2 separate regions of the Homo sapiens genome follow, and region 2 is linked to region 1. The links come from fine-mapping of genetic effects on gene expression. A gene starts in region 1. The other region holds a variant in brackets. All regions are shown on one strand. Distances are from middle to middle. Region 1 holds the start of TRIM71 (tripartite motif containing 71). Region 2 has its middle 50 kb from the start of CCR4.

Evidence for each region. PIP is the estimated chance that this variant, and not a neighbour inherited with it, causes the effect.
Region 2: its variant is fine-mapped to the expression of TRIM71 in monocytes (TOPMed, PIP above 0.99). The same link has a PIP of 0.9 or more in blood mononuclear cells.

What each region holds. Positions count from the first base shown.
Region 1 is chr3:32,816,636-32,819,542 of GRCh38, forward strand. TRIM71 (tripartite motif containing 71) reads left to right here and starts at 1,362. Exons shown (of 4, transcript NM_001039111.3): 1 at 1,362-2,297. The coding sequence starts at 1,446. RefSeq lists an enhancer at 1,822-2,403.
Region 2 is chr3:32,900,305-32,903,211 of GRCh38, forward strand. No RefSeq gene overlaps it. Among named protein-coding and RNA genes, the nearest start is that of CCR4, 50 kb to the right of the region's middle. RefSeq lists silencers at 2,579-2,658, 2,700-2,855, 2,879-2,907. The variant A/C (reference allele first, on the strand shown) is at 1,333.

The DNA.
Region 1 (2,907 bases):
ACCGGCGTACTGAAGAGAAGAGGAGGAGGAGGAGGAGGCAGAGGCGGCAAAGCAGAGAAAGAGGGGGCGCGCGCGCGCGCACGCAACCCGAACTGGGGGAGTTGTGCAAAGCCCCAGGAGGCCGGGGCACGGCGGGAGCAAAGCTCGGTAGGCGCAGCGCGGCCGAGGCCACCCGCGTCCGGATCGGCGACTCCTTTCAGAAAGAAGATGACGCGGGCGCGAGCCGGCGGCGTTGGCCACGCGGCTCCCGAGCTCGCCGCGCGGGGCTGTTGCCGGTTCCACTGATTCCAGCGCGCCCGAGAGGAGCCTCCATCCCCGAGGCTCGGGATCGGAGGGGGGACCAAGGCGAGGGCGAAATGGCCCGATGACAAAGGAAATGTGATCCCCCTTCTCTGCCAAGGTTTCAGAGAGGACGGACGTGAGGAGGAGGAGGGGCGCAGGGCGCGCGCGGAGCTCGGATAGCATTGCACGACGGCCCGCGCGGAGCGGGTACATCTAATATCTTCCTGCCGATGAATAATTCAGGGCGGCCCGCGGGGACCTGCGGCCCCGCGCGCTAAGCCGAAGGGGAAGGAGCGTGCGTGAGGCGCCCAGGCCAGGCGAGGCGGGGGCACGAGGGCTCCGGGCCGCGTGGGGCGCGCGTGCGTGTTAAGCGCGGGCAGCCGCGGCCCGGCTGGGCAGGCGCGCGGAAGACTCGAGGCGCGTGGGACGCGCGTGCGTACTGCACGCGTGCGGCCGCGGCTGGGCCACCACGAGCTGCAGCTGCTGCGGGGCCCACCGCCCTGCAGGGGAGGCCGTGCCTGGCTGTGCGCAAGCCCCAAGCGCAGCACGCCGGGCCACCCAGGAGCCCCTGGCCGCCGCGTCATGCGGCGGGGCAGCCGACGTCGCGCGGGGAGACACCGGCTTGGCGACGCACCGCTCCCGCCTTTACTAGTTTGGGGCTCCTTCCCCTCCCAAGAACAGACTAAATCCGTTTAAAGAAAAGCAACGCACCAAATACTCGTGGAACCAAATTCTGCTCTCGCCGGGACTGGGACTGCACAGCGAACTCTCCTTTTGGGAACTCCTTTCGTCTATCGCGAAGGGAAGCCTCAGCTGCTCCAGGGAGTCTTCCGACCTCCCTGCCCCCGCTCGCCCCTCGCCTGTCGGGGCTTGTTCCGGCGTTCCCTCTTCGGAAGGCACGCGGCCCCCAAGTTATCCGGAGGAATCTGTGTCGCCGCTGGATAGTGGCATTTAATGCCTGCAGTGTCGGGGGTGGCAGCGCTCGGGCCGGACGTGGCGAGGCCAAGCGGGCAGCGCTGCTCTGGTGCCGGCTCCCGGATTGCAGGCCTAATCGATGCATTTTTCTGAGTGAGTCGGTGACTCCCCCACCCACCTCGTCCGCTCTCTCCTCCTCCTCCTCCTCTTCCTCTCTGGTCTCCTCCCTCCTCCGGGCTGGGTTGCAAATGGCTTCGTTCCCCGAGACCGATTTCCAGATCTGCTTGCTGTGCAAGGAGATGTGCGGCTCGCCGGCGCCGCTCTCCTCCAACTCGTCCGCGTCGTCGTCCTCCTCGCAGACGTCCACGTCGTCGGGGGGCGGCGGCGGGGGCCCTGGGGCGGCGGCGCGCCGCCTACACGTCCTGCCCTGCCTGCACGCCTTCTGCCGCCCCTGCCTCGAGGCGCACCGGCTGCCGGCGGCGGGCGGCGGCGCGGCGGGAGAGCCGCTCAAGCTGCGCTGCCCCGTGTGCGACCAGAAAGTAGTGCTAGCCGAGGCGGCGGGTATGGACGCGCTGCCTTCGTCCGCCTTCCTGCTTAGCAACCTGCTCGACGCGGTGGTGGCCACTGCCGACGAGCCGCCGCCCAAGAACGGGCGCGCCGGCGCTCCGGCGGGAGCGGGCGGCCACAGCAACCACCGGCACCACGCTCACCACGCGCACCCGCGCGCGTCCGCCTCCGCGCCGCCACTCCCGCAGGCGCCGCAGCCGCCCGCGCCTTCCCGCTCGGCACCCGGCGGCCCTGCCGCTTCCCCGTCGGCGCTGCTGCTCCGCCGTCCTCACGGCTGCAGCTCGTGCGATGAGGGCAACGCAGCTTCTTCGCGCTGCCTCGACTGCCAGGAGCACCTGTGCGACAACTGCGTCCGAGCGCACCAGCGCGTGCGCCTCACCAAGGACCACTACATCGAGCGCGGCCCGCCGGGTCCCGGTGCCGCAGCAGCGGCGCAGCAGCTCGGGCTCGGGCCGCCCTTTCCCGGCCCGCCCTTCTCCATCCTCTCAGTGTTTCCCGAGCGCCTCGGCTTCTGCCAGCACCACGACGACGAGGTGAGTGCGTGGGGGCGTGTGTTTGTGTCCATCGGATAACTGCGTGTGTGCTCAACAGCGTTTCCCGGCCGGTCCCACAGCGAGGGGAGGAGGCCCTCTCCGGATTTGGTTTGTATTTCCTTTGGCTACGTGGCAGTCCTTGCTACCAAAGTAGATCATGACCTGGGAAGTATGTGGAAGTGGATTCTGTGTACGTGTCGCGAGGGGCTCCGAAAAATCCCATAGCGTGGGGTCCTCCCTTTTCTGATTTTAATTTCTGTGTGGCAAAACGCGGCAATCGTCTTGAGTTAGGCGTGAGTTGGGAGGAGATAGGTGTGTGTGTTTGTGTAGACGTGGCCTGCTCCTGCTCTTGTGGGCACACCAGAGGCCTCCCAACGTGCTGAGAAGGCGCTCCTTTATTTTCAGATTTTTGTTTGGAAAACTCATAGATTGTTGCCTTTAAAATGGGGCGTGAGCCCGGAAGAGATGGTTGTGTGGGTGAGTGCGTGGAGTTTGTGTGCCTCCGTAGACCTGGTTTCCACGTGCGCACTTGTGAGGGGAAGACTGGTTTTTTTGTTGTTGGGACAGCATGGCAGTCCTTGCCTCCTTATGTTGGGTAAGAGTGGGAGCG
Region 2 (2,907 bases), 84 kb after region 1:
CGAATGGAGCATGCGCTCCACTGGTAGCTGCGGGCGGTCCTGAAAGCAATCTCCCGTGGTGCCGAGGGATGGCTGTATTTCACTGCATCTAAGTGAACTGTTAGATCTCTCTTCACCTCCCATGACCACAGGCAGTATCCTAGTATTCCTGATGGCAGGAAGTGTCATCAGCCTGGATCTGGGAGAGGCTGACACAAGAGCAGCACGCCAGGCAACCAGGAATGCACATGTGATAAAAATGTATACACTTGTTGTGTGTTTTTTATGTTTTAAAAATTAGTTCAATGAAGTACAGTAGGGAAATTGTCAATAATTTATTGTAAATTTCAAAATAAAAGATTTGTATTGTTCCTAGCACAAAGATAAATATTTGAGGCGATGGATATCCGAAGTACACTGATTTGATAATCACATGTTATACAAGTTTCAAAACTCATATGGACCCCCAAAATATGTCCAACTACTATATATCAATTTTTAACTTACAAAAATTGAAACTTGAAAAACAACAATATTAAAGAAGCGAAAGCATAAGCCTCAGAATGGGAGAATATAAAGGTATAACTAATAAAGGATTGCCATCCAGAATATTTAAAGAACTACAATAAGGAAAACATACCCCAATTAAAAACAACGAGGCAAAGGGTGGGGTTAAGTTATTTACCGAGCTCAACTACCCTAGAACTCAGGGAAATACAGACCAAAGCAACAATAAGATACAATGTTATACTCATCCTTTGGATAGAAATAGGAAAGTCTAATTATAGCAACTGTTGGTGAGAAATGGGAACTGTCCTACACAGCTGGTGGGAGTGAAAAGGAGTACAACCTGTTTGCAGGGGAATTTGTCAATACCTAGTAAAGGTGAAGATGTACACATACACACGGATCCAGTAATTTCACCTCCAAAATATGCTGTGGAGAAATTCTAGCACAAACAACAGCATAAGAAGACTTAAAACAGTCGCTGCCTGGTTGTCTGGAGTACGTAATGCCAAGTATCTTGTCAGTGGGGAGATAGAAGAGTACATTTGATATATTTATTCAGTGCAAGTTAAAGTGAATGGGGACGCTACATGTGTGTAGGTACATCTAAAAATCATTGGGTGAAAGAAGTTCTAGTATGATTTTACAGTATACCTTTTACATAACATTTGAAAAAAAGTACAAAACAAGACTACATATTTGCTATAGATTTGACTTGTTCGACGAGCATTAAGTGGCTAGGTGGATGGCATGTGGTGGGACTTCTTGCTAGAAGAGGAAGCTGTAAAAGTGAGCCCAACCAATTTCTTTATGGTTACTAAAAATGCAGGTTGAGCAAGTAGATTA[A/C]GAAAGCCTCAGAACTTTGTTTTCCCTCTTCCTCCCTTTATGACTTGCTCATAAAACATGACAATAGGAGACAAATATGAAAACAATGAGGACAGAAATCTGTGTTTCTAGAAAGAATGGAATGGGTATAAAATGGGTATGAAGCGGTAAGAAATTGCCTTTCCAGGACAGACAAGCAACTGCCCCCACCTCACCCCCACCAACACTTCCTTTTCCTCAAGACATGTTGAATGTTTTGTTTTCTCTACCTTTAACAACCATCTTTGTCCCTAAGTATATAGCAATAGACTTTAAAAATGCATTTCAGGCCGGGAATCTGGCCCGGCGTGGTGGCTCACACCTGTAATCCCAGCACTTTGGGAGACCCAGGTGGGTGGATCACCTGAGGTCAGGAGTTCAAGACCAGCTTGACGAACATGGTGAAACCCTGTCTCTACTAAAAATACAAAAAAATTACCTAGGTGTGGTGGCTGGCACATGCATGTAATCCCAGCTACTCAGGAGGCTGAGGCAGGAGAATTGCTTGAATCTGCAAGGCGGAGGTTGCAGTGAGCCTAGATGGCGCCACTGGACTCCAGCCTGGGTGACAGTGAGACAACGTCTGAAAAAAAAAAAAAAAAAAAAAAAAAAAAAAGACTTTCATGTCTCCCAAGCAACAATCCAAATTTTTAAAATTTAATTAATGAGGACTAGAATAAAACACTGGAAGCATATACTCTGGTGGAATATTCAGACAATTCAACTTTTAGAGACTAGCATTTTTTTGGTCTAGGTATACTTTACACACAATAAATTTCACACATTTTAGAACATGGTTCTGTGAATTTTGACAAAAACACAATCACATAACCAACACAACAAGCACCATCAGGGCAGAAAAGCCAACTTGGCTTCCTAAAGGAGACAGAAACGAATGTCTCGTTAGTTTCATGGTCATTATCCATGAGATTGTAATACATGCTTAACCTGTCAAAATGAGAGGTGACAGCGTGCTGGCAGTCCTCAGAGCCCTCGCTTGCTCTTGGCGCCTCCTCTGCCTGGGTTCCCACTTTGGCGGCACTTGAGGAGCCCTTCGGCCCGCCGCTGCACTGTGGGAGCCCCTTTCTGGGCTGGCCAAGGCCAGAGCCGGCTCCCTCAGCTTGCAAGGAGGTGTGGAGGGAGAGGCGCGAGCAGGAACCAGGGCTGCGAGCAGCGCTTGCGGGCCAGCTGGAGTTCTGGGTGGGCGTGGGCTTGGCGGGCCCCGCACTCGGAGCGGCCCGCCGGCCCTGCCCGCCCCGGGCAGTGAGGGGCTTAGCACCCGGGCCAGCGGCTGCGGAGGGTGTACTGGGTACCCCAGCAGTGCCGGCCCACAGGCGCTGCGCTCAATTTCTCGCCGGGCCTTAGCTGCTTTCTCACGGGGCAGGCCTCGGGACTGCAGCCCGCCATGCCTGAGCCTTCCCCCGCCTCCATGGGTTCCTGTGCAGCCCGAGCTTCCCCGACGAATGCCGCCCCCTGCTCCACGGCGCCCAGTCCCATCGACCGCCCAAGAGCTGAGGAGTGCGAGCGCATGGCGCGGGACTGGCAGGCAGCTCCACC